Regions from separate parts of the Homo sapiens genome. Here region 1 is linked to region 2. Evidence: fine-mapped QTL for protein levels in blood plasma. A gene starts in region 2. The other region holds a variant in brackets. All regions are shown on one strand. Distances are between the middles of the regions.

What was found. PIP is the chance, under the fine-mapping model, that this variant and not a neighbour inherited with it causes the effect. The UK Biobank Pharma Proteomics Project read protein levels with antibody pairs (Olink). The fine-mapping took linkage between variants from a reference panel, not from the people measured, so its PIPs are less certain.
Region 1: its variant is fine-mapped to the plasma level of the ZBP1 protein (UK Biobank, PIP 0.95).

What each region holds. Positions count from the first base shown.
Region 1 is chr20:57,597,813-57,610,732 of GRCh38, forward strand. It overlaps ZBP1 (Z-DNA binding protein 1), which reads right to left. Exons shown (of 8, transcript NM_030776.3): 7 at 12,337-12,555; 8 at 6,040-6,957. The coding sequence ends at 6,761. Among named protein-coding and RNA genes, the nearest start is that of ZBP1, 16 kb to the right of the region's middle. The variant A/G (reference allele first, on the strand shown) is at 7,007.
Region 2 is chr20:57,617,502-57,624,499 of GRCh38, forward strand. It overlaps ZBP1 (Z-DNA binding protein 1), which reads right to left and starts at 2,925. Exons shown (of 8, transcript NM_030776.3): 1 at 2,761-2,925. The coding sequence starts at 2,794. RefSeq lists enhancers at 478-1,337, 1,515-1,624, 2,705-2,754, 2,885-3,174.

The sequences.
Region 1 (12,920 bases), 17 kb before region 2:
AGGACGATGCCCGTGTTCTAATCCCAGAACCTGGAACATGTTACCTTACATGGAGAAACAGACTTTGCAGAGGTGATTAAGTTAAAGATAGTGAGGTGGGGGGTCATCCTGCATTATCAGGGTGGCCTCGATGTCATCACAGGGGTCCATCTAAGAGGAAGGAGGAGGTGAGAGGGAAAGACAGAGGTTCAGAGCCGGTAAGCCAGATGCTGGGGGCAGAGAGGAGTCACACAAATGGGGGGATCAAAGATTCACCTCCAGGATCTCCCAGCCACGCAGTTCACCCCCCACACCCCTGACCTGCAGGTGGAGCTGGGAGGGCCAGGCCTGTCTCGAGCTCTGTAGCCAGGGGCGCCAGACCCCCTCCCCCCTTTCCCCACCCCCGGCCCCCCAGCTGACACTCCCGCCTTCAGGGCTTTGCCGGCACTGGCCCTGCTGGATTGCTTCTCCAGCAGCTGGGGGCATTCAGCTGATTGTGGCAAAGGCCACTGTGCCCCGGGGTGGGCGTGGGGGGCAGGTCAATGAGACACAGTGGGGGAGCTGACCAGCCAGGGGCTGGGAGGTGACAGCCAGGCCGCGGTGATATGTCCCAGGCAGCTTTTTCAGTAACATGTTTAAGAGCACTGGCTTGCAAGCCTGCCTGATGGCTGGGTTTGAATCCTATCTCTGTCCTTGGGCAGTAGTTTCACCTCCCTGAGTGGGTTTGAATCCTATCTCTGTCCTTGAGCAGTAGTTTCACCTCCCTGAATGGGCTGCCTTGGAATCATGCAGCGGGGGCTGCATCATGCTGCGTATCCACAACTGTCCAAGGAACCCTTGTTTCACAGGAGCTCTTGCAGAAGAGGGTTTTCATGGAATGCAAAATCCTGGTCCTGCTGGCCCCTCCCCATCTGAGGTGATGTGGCTGCCCGTGGGTGGGTGCCAGTCTGCTGTCATCCGTGGGAGCTAGCAGCCTGGCAGATGGGAGTGTTAAATCCTCCGTGATGGGTTGACCACCAGGACTGGAAAAATCTGGTTTTCAATCTGGAATTTTGAACATGGGTCTCACTTGTCAGCCATGTGGCTTTGGGCAAGCCACTTACCCTCCCTTGGCCCCAGTCTCCTCATGTACTTAAGGGGAGGATTAAAGAATGCTTAGAAAATGCCCTTGTCACAGAAGGTCCACACCATTCTAAGCACCCCCAAATTCAGGGGTGAGCCTGGATTGGCTACAGCTAATGACTCTCATCCCCATGCCCAATTGGAGGTGGCAAATACTGGGGTGGTTTAGAAATTGCTTTTGTCCCCTGTGGGAATGTGAGGTCTGGAACCACTGCAGCCATTTTGTCCCCAGCAGGGCAGAACTCTTAGTGGCTGGAAAGTCTCCGTGTGGAGCCTGAAAAAGCTGAGTCTGTGGGAAGCCATGAAGAGAGATGGAGGGACAGTGGGTCCTGAACCACATTGTTTGAGCTGCTGGATGAGGCCTTACCTGAACACTGCTAGTTTGTGAGTCAATAAGCACGCTAAAAAAAAAACAACAAAAAAACCTGCTTTTTGTTTTGATTCAAAAGTACAAATAGATCTGCAACATCCCACCTACAATATTGAACAGATGCCTAAACATACAGTCGTCCCCCAGTATCCCCAGGGGATTGGCTCCAGGACTCCCTGTGGGTACAAAATCCATGGATACTCAAGTCCCTGATATGAGATGATATAGTATTTGCATATAACCTATGCACATCCTCCTGTATACTTTAAATCATCTCTAGATTACTTATAATACCTAAAACAATGTGAATGCTATGTAAATAGTTGTTATACTGTATCATTTAGGGAATAATGACAAAAAAGTCCACACGTGTTTAGTACAGATGCAGTCATCTTGTTTTTCAGATATTTTCGATCCTCAGAACCCACACATACATAACCGACTGTATTTTTAAAAATCTTATTGGTTTCATTTTTCCCACTTGAAAATTTTTTCCCACATTCACTCAGCCTTCCATTCCAGGCCAGACCCAGTGGCTTCATAGGTTTTCTGTGCAGTATCAGGCTTCAGATTCTCACAACTCCCCATGCAGGGTTTTGTTTTGTTTTTTTTTTTTTTTTTGAGCCTTCGGTGGCTGGGGCCCTGTGGAGAGAGACTCATCAGAGAGCAGAGAGCTGGAGAGAAAGAAGCCTGAAAGGAAGGCTTGAGCCTCTGGATCCAACCATTCCTGAACATGAGTGTCCCTTGATTCCCCAGTTGCATGAGCAAATACATTCACCATTGTGCCTGAGCCTGGGGAGCTAGGCTTCGGCCATTCAAAGCCAAAATGCCCGTGAGTCCCTCTGTAGACTCTTCTTCCTGCTCTAAGCATCCAATTTTGGTTGCCTGGTAAAATCTCACAAGTGAGGAGTCCTGTCTGGGGTCACCCAGAGAGGAGGAGAGCAGCTGGAATGAGAACATAAAATTGCATCTGTGAGCAGGTTGGTGGTTTCAGAAAATCATTTCCAACTCCTGGAGCAAATTCCTCCTCCCTGCATCGAGTTCTGGGGGCTACAAGCTCCGTTTGCACACACCATGGCAGAAGGGAGGGGTGGGTGGGCGGGCTAGACACAGCGCGGGCTGAGGGGTGGATGGACTTAATCATTCTCTGCTTTTAATGGTATCTAGTTAATTTCCTTCCCAAGGAGACTAACATTGACCTTCACCTCTGGCCCCCATTAACTGCTAGCAATGCTTTGTCAGCGTATTTATGACAAATTAATTACACAGGGAAAATCTTGCTGGGAAAATGAGTATTCTGATTCAGCCTGGGGGTGGAAGCTGCATTTTGATTCCTCATTGACAGGGGGCCTGGTTATCCACAAAGTTTGGCCAAACTTGGAGGCAAGCAACTGATTTGCAGCTCCATGCAGCAGGAAGACACGCCCAGAAAGATAGACAAACCCCATTCTCATCCCCTCCTGCCTAGTGACTCATGTTTGCAAACTGGGTACTCTATGAGAAAATACTCTGGGGATCCCAGATCAGCATGGTGGTTGAGATAACTTTGCCTACAGTATGGCTGAGCAGCTCCAGTCCATGGGACAAGACACCCTATCCCCCAGAGTCAATCCAATGGCTGTACCGACCTTGTTGCCTAGGTCTGCCCAGTCCTCCCTGTGGGCTGGCTTGTACAGCAGTGTCTGGTCCAAACTCCCAAGCGGCCATGGTCTGGTCCCCACCTGCCTCCGCAGCCAGCCTCCCTCCACTCTTCTTTGTGCTGGGCTCTCCGGCAATACCCAAACCACGGTGGTTCTCTGAATAACTCAGCTGGTTCTGATCTTCATGGCTTTACTCCAGCTGTGGCCTGCCTAGAGCACCATTTCCACCCTACGCAGCCTCCTCCCTCTGCCTGGTCTTGAAAAATGTGCTCTTGAGAGTTCCCTCCTCCTCCAGGAAGCCTTCTGGACCCCTCTAGGCTGTGTCTGGGCCCCTGTCCCACACTCCCATGATTCCCTGTGATGGTTCCTGCTCTGAACTCCCTGCCTGTGTACGTTCCCCTCCTGACTCACTGTGAGCCACTATCAATGACAGGGCTTTGTCTCCCACTCTCAGTAGCCCAAGGGCCCAGCACAGGAGTTAGCCTGCAGGATGTGGTCAGTGAAGGGCCTTGTCCAGCATACATTGGACCCTGGAGGTATAAGAGTTGAAAGCCAGGGCCCCTGAGTCCAGTAAATTCCTCATTCAAAGCTGGGGAGTGTAGCGGACTTCTGAGGTTCTAGCCTGTCCAGCATCCCTTTCCTGGTAAATTTAGAAAACAGCTGATCCATCACCCTTAGGCCATGTGACTGGGGGTGGCTGCTCCCCATCCTGGTTCCAGAGATAAGCTATGTGATACCAGTTGGCCAATCACCGCATTCTATTGCTCTGGCCAATGACTGGTGGGGAATGGGCATACAAATAAAGCCATCTGTTGTGGCTTTTGCTGTCGGGAAAGTCATCCCTCTCCACTGGGTAGCTAAGCTAGTGGTGTGGGGGCCTGGAGCTGCTGGGGGCTATCATTGAAAACAGAGGAAAGCAGTAGGGGGGTGGAGCGAGGCTGAGTTCTAAGAGATCACCTGAGCTCCTGGATCTAGACATTCCTGAAGCAGGCTCTATGCCTGGGCTTGTCTATTAGAAGATCCAGTGCATCCCCTTTTGTGCTGAAGCAGGTCTCAGCTTTCTATCATCTACGACCAAATGAGTCTCGATGGACGAGAGCTAGACTAATGACAAGGCAATGTTGGGGCAATGAAGTGTGGGTTTGATATGGGGAGCAGAGGAGGCTTCAGAAGCAGACAGGAGGCATCCAGCTAGCCTGGGAGCTCTGAAATCTCTCGGTAAGGTCATGCCTCAGGTTGAGTAGCAGTGAGCTAAGGGGAGTGGGTAGGGGAGGTGAGGGGGCAGCTGCCCTTCAGAAATGGAAATCCCAGTGGAGCTGGCTTCAGCACTAAGGGGACATCTCAGTTCTTCTAATGGGTAAGTGCTAGGATAGGTTCTGCTTCAGGAATGACTGGATCAAGGAGCTCAAACAATGTCTTACGAATCCCCTTTAAGGGATGAACTGTAAGTTCTATATATCAGTCTAGGTTCTGACCAATATGTCAAAGCATCCACCCTAAAGATCCTCCCAGTCGAGTTGGGCAAGGAGATATGAATTTGTTCAATAACTGTTTTTACTGAGGCCCTGTGATGAGCCAGCCCCTCCCCGCCAAGGTAGACATTAGCCCCAGGGGCATCAGCTTTTGGGTGTCAGATGCCAAGGCCAGTGAAGGAGACAGAGTGGAGTGTGACAAACGCCCACCTGAGGACTGGGTGTGGCATTGGAGTTGGGGGCAGCAGAGTGCCTGTGTGTGTGCATGTGTGTGTGTACACCTGTGTGTGCATGTGTGTGTGCCTATGTGCACACTGAAGGACGGACACAGTCCTTGTTCCACAATCACCCTGCCCAGCTGATCACCACCTCCCTCTATCCCTCTCCATCTTCCTCCCACCATGCCCCACCAAATCCCTCCACTACCCACCCCACCCCATGGTTCAAGAAATGTTGCAGAGCCCATAGCCCTTCTACGGGAACTTAGCCCCTAGCGGGGTGGTGGGGTCTGGTAAATAACAAGCTGACATGGTTTTGCTGTGTCCCCACCCAAATCTCATCTTGAATTGTAGCTCCCATAATTCCCATGTGTTGTGGGAGAGACTCAGCAGGAGATAATTGAATCATGGGGATGGTTCCCCCATACTGTTCTCCTGGTAGTGAAGTAAGTCTTATGAGATCTGATGGCTCCATAAGGGAAGCCACTTTCCCTTGGCTCTCATTCTCTCTCTTGCCTGCTGCCATGTAAGACGTGCCTTTCGCCTTCCACCGTGATTGTGAGGCCTCCCCAGCCACGTGGAAGTGTGAGTCCGTTAAACTTCTTTTTGCCTATAAATTACCCCGTCTTGGGTATATCTTTATCGGCAGCGTGAAAATGGGCTAATCCACAAGCACTCCCTGCTGATTGGCCAGAAGAGGTCACCTGACCCATGGGTCAGCCAATGACTTCCACCAGGGCCTGGGGACCCAGGGTCGGGGTGGGAAAGAATTTTCTCTTTGGGAGTCCAGCTAAAAGATCCTGAGAGATCAAGGCTGAGGAGAGAAGATTCTAGAAAGGTCGGGTGATAAGGAGGTCAGGTGGCCACAATGGGCCTTGAGGAAGTGAGACCTCAGGTGAGGAGAGAGTGGGGCAGTGTTTCAGTTGGCTCAGGCTGCTATAAAAAAATGCCTCACCCTGGGTAATTTATAAGCAACAGGAATTTATTGCTTACAGTTTCGGGGTCTGGGAAGGCCAAGATCAAGGTGCCAGCAGAGTCAGTGTCTGATGAGGGGTTGGTCTCGGCTTTAAGGATGGCACTTTGTTACTGCATCCTCACATGGCGGACAGGCAAGCGGGACTAACAGGCTCCCTCAAGCCCTTTCATGGCAGCGCTAATCCCACAATCCCACTCGCCCTCCTGACTCCATCCCCTCCAAAAGGCCCCATCTCTTCATACCACTGCACTGGGGATTATGGTTGGTTTATTTTTTATTTATGTATTTATTTTTTTGAGACGGAGTCTCGCTCTGTCGCCCAGCCTGGAGTGCAGTGGCGCGATCTCGGCTCACTGGAAGCTCCACCTCCCGGGTTCACACCATTCTCCTCCCTCAGCCTCCGGAGTAGCTGGGACTCCAGGTGCCCGCCACAACGCCCGGCTAATTTTTTGTATTTTTTTTTTTAGTAGAGACGGGGTTTCACCATGTTAGCCAGGACGGTCTGGATTTCCTGACCTATTGATCCGCCCGCCTCGGCCTCCCAAAGTGCTGGGATTACAGGCGTGAGCCACTGCACCCAGTTGGGATTATGTTTTGATATGAATTTTGTTGGGACTCAAACATTCAAACCACAGCAGGTAGCCATGATGGAAGGTAACTCCAGGCAGATGCCCCGAGCCCAGGAAAGAGTGGAGAGAGTCCCCTGGGCCTGGGGGACCGAGCCCCACTCCCATCTACCCACCTCCTCTTGGCACACCAAAGGTTCCCCAAGGCAACTCCCTGTCATCTACTCCTGGCCATCAAAAGACCTGGCCTGAACCCATCCCCATGCCAGGTCCATTCCCCCAAAACTGATTCATGCAGGTTATGTCTGGAAGCAAGCAGGTCAAACAAGACGCTAAGGAATGCAGAGAGCAGCAGGCTAGTCTCCCTAGCATGCGCCCACCCCCAGCCTGTGTCCAAGCCCCACGTGAGGCTGTGCACTAAATCCCACCTCCCCACCAGCTCCCCTCGTGTGAGGCTTCATCCACATAGTGGCTGCCTTCTGCAGCTTTGTGACTCCTGTTTCCAAGAGTCATAGTTTCCAGCTTGGGGGTGAGCTTCGAGTGGCTGGGAGTGATGGGCTGACCAATGTCTCGAGGAAAGTGACTTCTGGATTGTGTGTCTGCGGGACGACGACCTAGGGAAGAGAAGATGGGGGATCAGCTTCATGGGCACGTGGCCTGGGC[A/G]TTTCCACAGGGACCCGCTCTTGGAAGGATTTCGAGCTCAGCTTGAGCCTTTGTTGTTACTGTCTTTAGATTTGTACAAAGTCTTGAACAGGGAGCCCCACCTTTTCACTTTGCACTGGGCCCCCAGATCATGTAGCCAGTCCTGTCCTAGTTTCACAGCAGTGAGATGGAGGAGCAGAAATAACACCAGAAAGCCCCCATCCCAGGGCTCTCCCAGTCCTCCCAGGGACCCCAAAAGACGGCTCTACATGCTCTGGCACTGACAGTCTCTGATTAGCAATTTCCTCAAACAAAACAAAACAAAACAAAACAAAACAAAACAAAAACCATTCCAGGCCTTACACATCTCAGGATAAGGTCCCGCCCGCCACTCAAGGAGGAAGTGACAGGCAGACCTCATTTTATCTCACTTTACCTTATTGTACTTTGGTTTATTACACTTCATAGATATTGCACTCATTTTTCACAAGTTGAAGGTTTGTGGCACCCTGTGTGAAGCGAGTCTATCAGTGCCAATTTTTCCAGCAGCATATGCTCACTTCCTGTCTCTGCGTCACATTTTGGTAATCCTCACAATATTTCACACTTTTTCATTTTGATTATATGTGTTATGGTGATCTGTGACCAGTGATCTTTGATGTTGCTATTATAATTGCTTTGCTTTGGGGTGCCACAAATATCACCTGTAGAAGATGACGAAGTTAATTAATAAATCTGTGTGCTCTAACCTGTCACTGATCAGCCATCTCCTCCTCTCTCTCCCTCTCCTCAGGCCTCCCTATTCCTTGAAGACACAACAATATTGAAATTAGGAAAATTCATAACCCTACAATGGGCCGGGCGCCGTGGGTCACACCTAGAATCCCAACACTTTGGGAGGCTGAGGTGGGCAGATCACCTGAGGTTGGGAGTTCAAGACCAGCCTGACCTACATGGAGAAACCCCATCTCTACTAAAAATACAAAGTTAGCCAGGCGTGGTGGTGCAGGTCTGTAATCACAGCGACCCAGGAGGCTGAAGCAAAAGAATCCCTTGAACCTGGGAGGTGGAGGTTGCAGTGAGCCAAGATTGTGCCATTGCACTCCAGCCTAGACAACGAGAGCAAAACTCCATCTCAAAAATAAATAAATAAATAAATAAATAACCCCAAACGGCCTCTATGTGCTAAAGTGAAAGGAAGAGTTGCACGTCTCTCACTTTAAATCAAAAGTGAGAAATGATTAAGCTTGGTGAGGGAGGCATGTCCAAAGCTAAGACAAGTTGAAAGCTAGGTCAAAAGTTAGCCAAATTGTGAAGGCAAAGGAAAGGGTCTTGAAGGATATTAAAAGTCTTACTTCAGCAAACACATGAGTGATGAGAAAGTGAACCAGCCTTGTGGCTAGTGTGGAGAAAGTTTTAGTGGTCTGGATAGAGGATCGAGCCAGCTACAACAATCTCTTAAACCTAAGCCTCGTCTAGGGCAAGGCCCTTGCTCTATTCAATTCTAAAGGCTGAGAGAGGTGAGGAAGCTGCAGAAGAATAGTTGGAAGTGAGCAGAGGTTGGTTCATGAGGTTTAAGGAAAGAAACCGTCCCCATAACATGCAAGTGTGAGGTGAAGCAGCAAGTGCTGATGGAGAAGCTGCAGCAGGTTACCCGGAAGCTCTAGCTAAGATCATTGATGAGCGTGACTACACAACAGAGCAGGTTCTTAATGTAGATGAAACAGCCTTCTATTGAAAAAAGATGTCATCTAGAACTTTCATAACTCGAAAGGAGATGTCAATGCCTGGCTTCAAAGCTTCAAAGGGGACAGGCTCTCTTGTTGGAGATTAATGTAGCTGGTGACTTTCAGCTGAAGCCTCTCCTCAATTACCATTTTGGAAATTCTAGGGCCCTTAAGAATGATGCTAAATCGACTCTGCCTATGTTCTATGAATGAAGCAACAAAGCTAGATGAGAGCACCTGTATATAGCTTGGTTTACTGAATATTTTAAGCCTAGCATTGAGACTTACTGCTTAGAAAACAAAATATTCCTTTGAACATTTCACTGCTCATCGTCCATACCACAGGATCTGAGTGTTCCGCATCCTGGATTGAGGGCCAAAAAAAAATTTTTTTTTTACTACTCGTTGACAATGCACCTGTTCATCCACGGGCTCTGATGGAGATGTAAAAAAGAATTAACATTGTTTTCATGCCTGCTAGCACAGCATCCATTCTGCAGCCCATGGATTAAGGAGTAACTTCAACATTCACTTCTTATTCTTCAATAAATATATTTTATGAGGGCATAAGTGCAACACAGAGTGATTCCTCAGATGGATCTGGGCAAAGTAAGTTGAAAATCTTCTGGAAAAGATCACCAATCTACATGCCGTTAAGAACATTTGTGATTCATGGGAGGAGGTCAAACTATCAACATTCACAGGAGTCTGGAAGAAGTTGATTCCAAATTTCATGAATGACTTTGAGGGGTTCAAGACTTCAGTGAAGGCAGCAACTGCAAATGTGGTGGAAATAGCAGGAAAACACAAATTAGAAGTGGAATATGAAGATGGGACTGAATTGCTGCAATCTCATGAGAAAGCTTGAACAGATGAGTTGCTTCTTATGGATGAGCAAAGAAAGTGGTTTCTTGAGATGGCATCTATTCCTGGTGAAGATACTGCGAACATTCTTGAAATGACAACAAAGGATTTAGACTGCTATATAAACCTAGTTGGTAAAGCAGCAGCAGGGTTGGGGAGTCTTGGTTCCAATTTTGAAAGAAGTTCTAGTATGAGTAAAATGCCATCAAACAGCATTGCATGCTACAGAGAAAGCTTTCATGAAAGGAAGAGTTCATTGCTGCAGCGAACTTCATTGTTGCCTTATTTTAAGAAATTGCCACAGCTGCCTCCACCTTCAGCAACCACCACCCTGATCAGTCAGCAGCCATCAACATCAAGGCAAGACCTCCACCAGCATAGAGATGATGACTGGCAGAAGACAGGTGATGGTTAGCATTTTTAGCAATAAAGTATTTTAAAATTAAGGTATGTACATTGTTTTTTAGATATAACGTGATTCAGTGCACACCTAATAGACTAGAGCATCGTGTGAATATAACTTGTATATGCACTGGGAAATCAAAAATTTGCATGACTTGCTTTATTGGGGTGTTCTGGAACTCACCCATAATATCTCTGAGCTATGCCTATTGATGTCTCTTGGGGACAAAGAGAGGTGGGTGGGTCAGGGCAAGGGGCAAAGATGTCATCAGCTCTTCTGCTAGAACCTTAGGGAAGAATGTCAGGATGTTGCAGGGCAAATCTGGGAGTGTGACCATTTTTTTTTTTTGAGACAGAGTCTTGCTCTGTCGCCCAGGCTGGAGTGCAGTGGCATGATCTTGGCTCACTGCAAGCTCCGCCTCCCAGGTTTACGCCATTCTCCTGCCTCAGCCTCCTGAGTAGCTGGGACTACATGTGCCCGCCACCATGCCTGGCTAATTTTTTGTATTTTTTAGTAGAGAGAGGGTTTCACCGTGTTAGCCAGGATGGTCTCGATCTCCTGACCTCGTGATCCACCTGCCTCGGCCTCCCAAAGTGCTGGGATTACAGGCATGAGCCACTACACCCAGAAGTGTGGCTATTTTTAAAAAACACAGTGCTGTGTTCTTTCCGGAAAGAGAAGTCTTCAATGGTCTGGCTTGAGACCCACAGGGCTCTGCAGACAGCCTGTGCTGTGGGGTCCTAAGCCGGATCCCCATCTGGTGGCACATGCCCTCCCAAGGGTCCCCAGTGGCCTTGGAGGTCTCAGAGACTCCCTTTGCTGCTGGAAGGAAGTCCATGCTCCCAGATGCTCATGGCCTGAGTCCTGAGGAATGCGCTCCTGGTCCCCGTTCTGCAGGTGTCACATGTGCATGGGGCTCCCAGGGGTCCTGGAGGGAGAGTTTGAAGACACGTGGGGCCAGGGTCTCCTCAGTTGCTGGGACAGCAAGGACACGGCCCTTGGGGTGAGGAGACCCTCTGGACTTCCAGGACATGCATCCCCTGGGCCTTCAGGCACTGGAGGGTGGATGCCGGCCAGTCCTCCAGATTCCGTGAATCCATGTTTTCTACCCATTGGTGGGACTGGGTGTGATTCCTTATTCCAGATCCCAAAAGGGTAGGAGCGGAAATCCGCCTTCTAATTCTTTTTTCACATGGGAGGCAAAAATCTCATCCAGCCCCTCTCCTGCTCAAAGCCCCCCATGGCTTCCAATTGCCTTAGCATCGACTGCAGCCTGGAGCCAGGCCCTGGCTCTGCTCTCCATGCTCAGGTCACCCTCAAACCCCTGTGGGTTCCCACACTGTCATGTCCTCACCTCCAGGCCATTGTCCACACTGTTCCACCCACCAGGTACACCTGCCCTGGCCCTCCCCACCTTGCGTGGACCTGCCCAACTCTCCAGCTGCCCCCACCCGAGGCCCCGAGCTCCCTTCTGCAGAGTTGGAATCCTCAGGCTCTGCAACCAGCCTGTGCAGCTTCCAGGGACCAAACGGTGGCTGGGACGGTGAACCGCACTGGTTTCCCCTCTCCCCTCTTCCTGTTGGCAGTGGAGCCCCCTCCCCTGAGTCTCTGCTGGGCTTAGACTGCCTTGACACAGGCGGCACTTCCCAGACCCCCCGTGGCTAAGTGCAGGCCCTCAGAACAGCACAGATGCAGTGGGTGGGCTTGGTCAAAGACAACAGCGGCTCTCTGTACCCTCTCTCGCCCCTCTGCTTGCTGGTGCTAAGTTCAACCCCACAGATGAGGACGGAGCCCAAGGGACGACTCAGCACTGAGGTAAAAGAAACCCTGGTCTGCTACCCTCACCCGGACATGAGACTTGGGCTTCAAGCAGGCGGGGCCACCGTGTGTGGCATCTCCACTGCAGCAGGTCAGCCTGTGCCCTGATGCAGAACCTTATTTGCATGGCAACCCAGCACCTCTCTCGGGCCCAAAACAATCACCACAACAATGATGAGACAATAACACTCCTATCTCCTGAATGCTGGCAGGGCTGGTGTAGGGCTGAGCTTCGCCTTCAGATTTTACCCCAGTCTTGCAACCACTGTAGGAGTTGCTTCAGGCTATTCTTGCCATCCCACTTTACAGCTAAGGAGACAGAGGCTCCTGGGTGAAATGACTTGGGTGGGTCCCTCCACTAGGGGGACGGAGCCTCCACGCTGACTCTAGAGCTGCTGCTCCTCGCTGTGGGTGGGCACAGCCTCCAGACTCCGGGAAACCAGAGATTAGCGAATGATCGATGAGAGTGAATGAATGAATGAGTGGAAGGTGGGGAGAGAGAGAGAACACACAGGGGTCCACTCTGCCCCCTAGCTCACCTGCGTCCTCCCCTGGCTCCCCCTCTCCAGACCCTGCGACTCCTCCTGGGCCAGCCACCCCTGGGCTGATAGACATTTTGTTGCTGTTGCCGATGGTGGCGTCCTCGAGAAAGCACGATTTCATGTGGATTCTCTGGGCGGCTTCCCCCTCAGGGTGAGTTCCTGGACTGGGAATTCTTGCTTCAAACGAAGCTTCTGGGCCGGCAGCAGTGGCAGAGACTGTGGGTCAAAGGGAGAGAGGCCTGGAGCCAGGAGCAGCTGGACAGTGGCCGGGAACCCTGACCCCCAGCCTGGTTCACCCTCCTCCCCAGATCTCCCACCAGTGGCCCACACCATCCCAGGAGCACAGCCTGTGCCTGCCCGCCACACCTCCACCCGCCACACCTCCGCTCGTGCTGTTGTGCTGTCTGGGAAGCGTCTTTCTGCTCCACTGATCCCGCAGTGGGTCTGCCCCACTGATCCCGCCCGGCTGATCTGGACGTCAGTGTCTTCCTCTGGGATTCAGCTCCTCTCTCCTCTGCTGCCTGCTTCCCACTGCACTGGAACACTGGCCCCCACTTTTGGTTGAAATCTTATGGGGGCTC
Region 2 (6,998 bases):
GCACACAGTAGGTGCTCAGGAAATGGCAGTTGAATGTATGAGTGACTGAGTGAATGAATGAATGAATGAATGGGGCCAGGAGTGGTGGCTCACACTTGTAATCCTAGCACATCAGAAGGCTGAGATGGGAGGACCCCTAGAGGCCAGGAGTTCTAGACCAGCCTGGGCAACATAGTGAGACCCCCATCTCTACAAAAAAAGAGAAAAATCAGGTAGGTACGATGGCATATGCCTGTAGTCCCAGCTGCTTAAGAGGCTAAAAGTGGGAGGATCGCTTGAATCTAGGAGGTAGCAGTTGCAGTGAGCTATGAATGCACCACTGCACTCCAGCCTGGACAAGACCCCATCTCTGGAAAAAAAAAAAAAAAGGACTGAATGAGTGAGTGTCTGTCTCTAGGGACAGACGTTTACCCAATAGACCCTGGGCAGGGCCCGGGTAGCTTCTCCTTGGCCAGTTGGCAATGTGCTGCTGTTTCCTGGCCTGAGTTTAATGAGGACTAAGCAGGACCCCAAGAGGTTCAAGGAGGAATTCTCCAAATGGCCCCTGCTCCTCCTGAGGCAGCTCTTAAAAATCAAAACCATTAGCTCACACAATGATTAAAAGATCAAAGCCAGCTGCTCTGCCCAGAGATGAGGCTGGGGCAGACGCAGGTTACGGGCAGCACCTGGCAGCCAGCAGCCTGGGAGAGCCACTGTGGGCGGGGGCCCCACCTGTCACCAGGAAGCTTCTGCTTCAAGGAACCTGAGGGCAGTGCATGGGAGAGCCCTTCTTGGAAAGACCTGAGTTCCCCTTCCAGGACAGTGACTCAGTCCTTTGTCATCTGGGCTTTCTTTCCTGTTCAGAGGATTCTCCAGGTTTGCCCAGGGTTCCTTGGTCACAGCACTTGTAGGGGAGGGAAGAATCAGTTTGTGCCTCACCCTGATGGTTACAACGCTGACCGGCTTGCCGTGTGCAGGTGAAGACCAATTAGAAGACCTGGGAATTCCCACTCCTGCGCCCACCAAACTCCCCCACCGGCAGCCAGCAGCACCTCCATGCACCTGACTTCACACCTGGCTTCACCTTGTCTCGCAGAGTTTTTTGTTTTTTGGTTTTGAGATGGAATTTCGTTCTTGTTGCCTGGTCTGCGGCTGCAGTGGTGTGATCTCGGCTCACTGCAACCTCCACCTCCTGGGTTCAAGCAATTCTCTTGCCTCAGTCTCTCAAGTAGCTGAGATTACAGGCACGCACCACTACACCCGGCTGATTTTTGTATTTTTAGTAGAGACAGGGTTTCCCTTTTTGGCCAGGCTGGTGTCAAACTCCTGACCTTGGGTGATCCCCGCAACTCAGCCTCCCAAAGTGCTGGGATTGCAGGCGTGAGCCACTGCGCCTGGCCGCAGTTTTGATTCTGGAAGGCTGACCTTAGGGAGCCACTGCCTCGGCTCCACACACCCCAGAGGAGATGGGGGTCAGAGGTGTGGATGCAGGACAAGCACTGGCCCTGGGCTGGCCTCGACTGCTGAGTCCCAGGCTACTGTGTCTGAAAATGGGAAATTGTAAAATGGAGCAGGTGTAGGCAACAATTTGGTCACAAAAGGAAAATCAACTGGGGAGGAAGACAAGAAAAGCCAGCGAGGGCTGAGTCCGGAACCTGCGTCAGCACCCGTGAGTCCCCGAAGAGGAAGCTCCACAGGACCTCCGCGGTCAGCCCGGCTCCTGGGCCACACCCTGACATTAGCCCTCCCGGGGCACACTCTGTGTTGGTTTTTTAAAATTCTGATGGCTGATTTCCTGGGTTTGAGCTCCTAGCCCTGCCAACTACTAGCTGTGTGACCTCCCCTCCGGCTTCAGGTTCCTCTTCTGTGAAATGGAGACAGTAATAACTACTTCAAAGATTGTGGTGAGGATTAAAAACAAAACAAACACATCCCCCAAACCGCAAAACCACACTTCACCTACAGTCCACAGCGCTTAGTGGAGACCCTAGAGAACAGCAATTACTCGATACACTATTGGCTTTCATTGCAACTCTTCCAGGAATAAAATGAATGAAATGTTAGTTGAGGAAAGGATGCAACAAGGGGGAACAAAGGCACACATGTATCTCATCAAAGCAAACCGCTTTGTTCTCGATATGACTGTGACATGGGTGTTCAGACGCTAACACCAGCGTTCGCCAGCTGTGTTACCCTGAGAGTGTCATTTCACCTCTCAGGGCCTCAGTTATCTATAAAATGGGAATGACATGGCACTTGTCCCTGCAGGCCATCAGGAAATGCTTGGAAAGCATGTTTCGAGGTGCCTGGGGCACAGTCAGCTGTCAAAGGGGGATGGCTATGCTGTCCCTTTCTATTTTTTTTTTTTTTTTCTGAGATGGAATCTCACTCTGTCACCCAGTCTGGAGTGCAATGGCGACATCTCAGCTCACTACAACTTCCACCTCCCGGGTTCAAGCGATTCTCCAGCCTCAGCATCCCGAGTAGCTGGGATCACAGGCATGCGCCACCATGCCCGGTTAATTTTTGTAATTTTAGTAGAGATGGGGTTTCGCCATGTTGGCCAGGCTAGTGTCAAACTCCTGAGCTTAAACAGTCCACCTACCTCGCCTCCCAAAGTGCTGGGATTACAGGCGTGAGCCACCACGCCCAGCTGGTCTACTATTCTTTAGGATACTGCTATTGTCATCATGATCTGGACCAAGCGAAACAGGAGGAAAGAGAAGTAGAAATCTCACCCCGGGAGCTACCGCTGGTCCTTGGAAGGAAGAAGTACTGTACCTTCTCTGCCCGGGTCAGCAGGAGCCTGGGCCATGCTGACAGCAGCTGCAAGGAGTCGGAGAGACTTGGCAGGTGTGCAGGCTTCTGCACTGTGGCCCTGAGAGGGTGGGCTAGGTCGAGGCTGGGGCTTCTGAAGTGGCCGAGCCTGGTGCTTCTTGCAGCTCTGAACCCACAAGGGGAGGGATGCCAGCTTCCACTGGGCAGGTGTCAGCTGCTTACAGCCCGGAAATAGATGCCTAGCCAGGCCGGCCAGATTCGGTTTCAGGAGAAAAAGAAAATGAAACTTCTCTGTTCGTCTTTTGAAAGAAAAAAAAAGTGGAAGCCAGGTGGATGAGCAAGACAGAGTTGGGGACCTGACTTGATGTTGACAGGGAGGAGCTGTAAACTTGGCAAGACCAGAGCGTCCTCCGAAGAGGCCTTTGAGACAGAGGACTTCCCTCACCTTCCCCGTTCCAGGCACAGCCCACCTGGACCTCTACATTTTTATTTTCTGAATCAGCATCAGAGAACTGAAGAAAATAAAAATAAAAAAAAGAGCATGCACCACGTGGAGGGGGATGCCAGGGCGTGGCATCACTCTGATGATGTGAGGGGCTGGGGCTGGTTATCTGGTTTCTGTGTTTTTGTTTGTTTTTGAGACAGGGTTTCTGTCATCCAGGCTGGAGTGCAGTGGCGTGATCACGGCTCACGGCAGCCTCGACCTTCCGGACTCCAGCGATCCTCCCACCTCTCAGCCTCCCTAGTAGCTGGGACCACAGGCCTAGACCACCATGCCCGGCTAATTTTTGTATTTTCTGTAGAGATGGGGTTTCATCGTGTTGCCCAGGCTGGTCTCAAACTCCTGGGCTCAAGCGATCTGCCTGCCTTGGCCTCCCACAGTGCTGGGATTCCAGCCGCAAGCCCCCACGCCCGGCCCCGCTGGTTCCTGTAGTACTTCCTCCTCGGGGACTCACAGGTGCTACAGAGGCACCGTCCCCAGCTCTCAGTGGCTTTTCTTGTCTTCTTCCAGTTTGTTTCCCTTGCCCACACTAGGGGCAGAACATTTAGGTGCGTGAAGGCCCTGAGATTGTTCTTGTGTGTATCCATGTGAGCCTCTTTAATGAACACCTATTATGCGTTTTCCAATCTCAAGTGCTCCTCCAACCCATCTACAGGGTAGGGGCCAGTTCTGTCTTCTTCTCAGGGGGGAAACTGAGGCTAGAAAGGCAAGATCACTTGTCCAAGGCCACACAGAGTCCATGACAGAGCTTGTCCTGTCCATTCCCCAATTGTGTTTCCTGATCTATAACACCCAGAAGTCACTGGTGAATCACCCTTAGTGCACAGATGGCGTGGAGTTCCCCGCCTCATCATAAAACTTGCTTATTAATTCCAGAGTCAGATGCCTGGGGTCAGCAGCCGAGTGGTTCGGAATGCAAGCCTGGGTCAGCATGCTTGGGTCCAAACCTGGCTCCGCCATTTACCGGCTGTGTGACCTCGGACAAATTATTTAACCCCTCTGTGCCTCAGTTTCCCCATGTGTAAAAGGACTTAATCAAAGGACCTAGCGCATGGGGTCGAGGTGAGGACCTAAGGGGCTGATACAGCCCAGCTGTCGGGCTAGAGCCCCAGAGCCATCCGTAGTCACGGGCACCGTGGTCACCTCACAGGAATGCTTCTGGGAGAGGACCCGTTGCTTACATAATTCTCAAAAGGGCCAGTGACCTCAGAAAAACTCAGAGCCACTGTTCTCTTCCAGATCACAGAAGGAGGAACTGAGGCCCACAGAGGTGAATGCTGTGTACAAGGCCCCCCAGCTTTTGGCAGCCAAGGGGGTTGAGAGCTCAGCCCTGGAAGTCCCTGGACTTGGGGTCTGTGTCTCATCTGCAGAGGGCTGGGAGGGCTAGAGACGTCTGTGCTCCTTGCAGACCCCATTTATGCATAAGGAGCAGCTTAGCGGCAAATACAAATGGAAAGGGGGTCCGGAGGTTTATCCTGAAGCTATCTGTCTTTGCAGAGCGAGCACCTGGAGCCCAGGTCTTCCGCCCTGCCTGCATGTTAAGTGTTTGAAGCAAAAAAAAAGTCTCAATGCCCAGGCCGGCCCAGACTAGTCAACTCCAACCTCTGCGGCTGGGGCCCGAGGGTGAGATTTTTTATGCTCCTGGGTGACTTTTCCTGCTTCCAGGTGGAGAACCAGTAAGTCTGGGGCAAGTCAATAACAGCAAACTGCAGGATGCTTTTATTCTCCTTTTATGTAAAAGCGAAAACTGCAGGTATCACCCTATGAAATAACAATAGTGCTCTTTAAATGGGGGGGTAGGTGGGGTGCTGAGGGAGATGATGAAGGTGCCCTCCGGAAGGGGCTCCGGCTGAGCCCTGCAAGGCTGAGTCCCTTGGGTGTCTGGGGTGCCACGCCCGAACTGGCCACCAGGTGATGCCGCTCACCAACCTGGGCTTGGGCGCACCTTGGCTTCAAGTTCCCTCTGATCTGCAGGGAGGAGCTCCTACCCCAACCCATGGTTGGACTCCAGACTTGATGAATCACAGCTCCAAGACGTGCCCACCCCTCCCACTGCCTTGTCCTGCATCATCCTTTATTCTTCCTGTCTCTTCAGTCACTCATCGTGGTTTCTTCACTCATCTTTCCTGGAAGGAGTCAGATTCCAGCTGTTTCTCTGTGAAGCCTCCAGGCAGTTCTTTGTGCTCTTCCGGCCTGGCCTCCCAGTGTTGGTCTTGACACAGCCCACCACTCCCCCGTGGGGAAACTCTCTCTCCCCCCATCTCCAGGGCCCATGCTAGCTTCTCCCCTTCCTTCCCTGGCCTCTGCAGCTCAGGCCTTGACCCCAGGTCCCTGGTGGGCTTGCAGGTCAGGTTGAGGGATGTTAGCTTGGTCTTGGGTGCCAGCCTTACTTCTAGGAAGATGGCTTCTGCTGCAGGGAGGAGGCTGGTGCCCCTCACGGCTGGTCTCCATCCAGACTGTGCTTGGATGACCCCTTTCTGTCCCCGTGGCCACATCCTGAAGGCACATGGAGCCCCTCTGGGCCTGAGCCATTTTTAGGAGTCTGTAGCAGGGACCACCATGCCAGTGGAGACCAAGCGCCTCGGGAAGTTCCCTGGACAAGGATTCTGTCTTGTCTCTTCTCCAGGGCAGGTTCTCCTTCCCAGCTGTGTGGCGCTACCTCTCTGAGCCGCGGTTTCTTTAACTATAAAGCAGAGATACTAAGAAAAAGCATTTTTGACACTTAGTATGTGCTCACAACATTTGCATAAGTTAGAAAACATGATGCATCTCCACAGTATCTCTTTAGACAGCAAACAAACAAAAGAGAGCAATAGACAAAAAGAAGAAAACATTTCACGTGGGTAGGTTCCACCTTTCTTTGCATTCCATGGCACATCTGGAGATGAAGCCAGGAATCTGCTATGTGCTTGTCACCCACTGAGTGGGAGTCTTACTTTTAAATACTTAGATTGCCTTTATTTCTCTTCTCTATTTAAGAGCTGTTTAAGTTGAGTTTGACCCTAAGGATTATCTTTAAGCCTAAATACCAGTGGCTAAAACAATAGAGTTGTGTCTTTTTCTTGAAAGAGTTGTAGGCATTCCAGGTTTAGTGTGGTGACCTGGGGTCCTTCTACATTGTCGGTCTGCCATTTGTGGCCTTCATTCTCAAGTTTGCCTTACATTTTAGAATGGCTGCTAAGCTCCAGCCATTACATCTGCATTCCTTCCAGCAGGGAGTAGGAAAGGGAACAAGGGCAGATATCTCCCTTTAAGCACGCATCTTACAAGTTGCACACACATTCCACTAATACCCCATTGGTCAGTCTTGTGGCTCTTATCTGTAAGGGGAGGCCTGGAAAGATGGTCTGTATTGTGGGTCACCATGTGCTCAGCTAAAATTGGGGTTCTATGACTTTAAAATGGGGGACAGTAGATATTGGCAGAGACCTAGCTATCTCTGCCATTTCAAGGTTCCCTGGTGTCCCCAAGAAAGGAGCAAAGATACCTCCTCTGTGCCTTCAGGTGTGTCCATTCACGGGGTTCATTTATTCAGCAGTTGCTGTGCCTCCTTACTCTGCCTGGAAAGGGCCTCAAAGGCCACAAGACTTCCAAGATGGCACCACTGCCTGCTGGAGTCCTCATCTCCTTTTGCCTTGGAAGGCGCACTCCCTGTTCATGGCTTGTGTTTTTCTGGAAACTATTAGAGCTCTCCGCCCAAACCAGATGATAATTACATGTTACTGATCTTGAGTCTTTA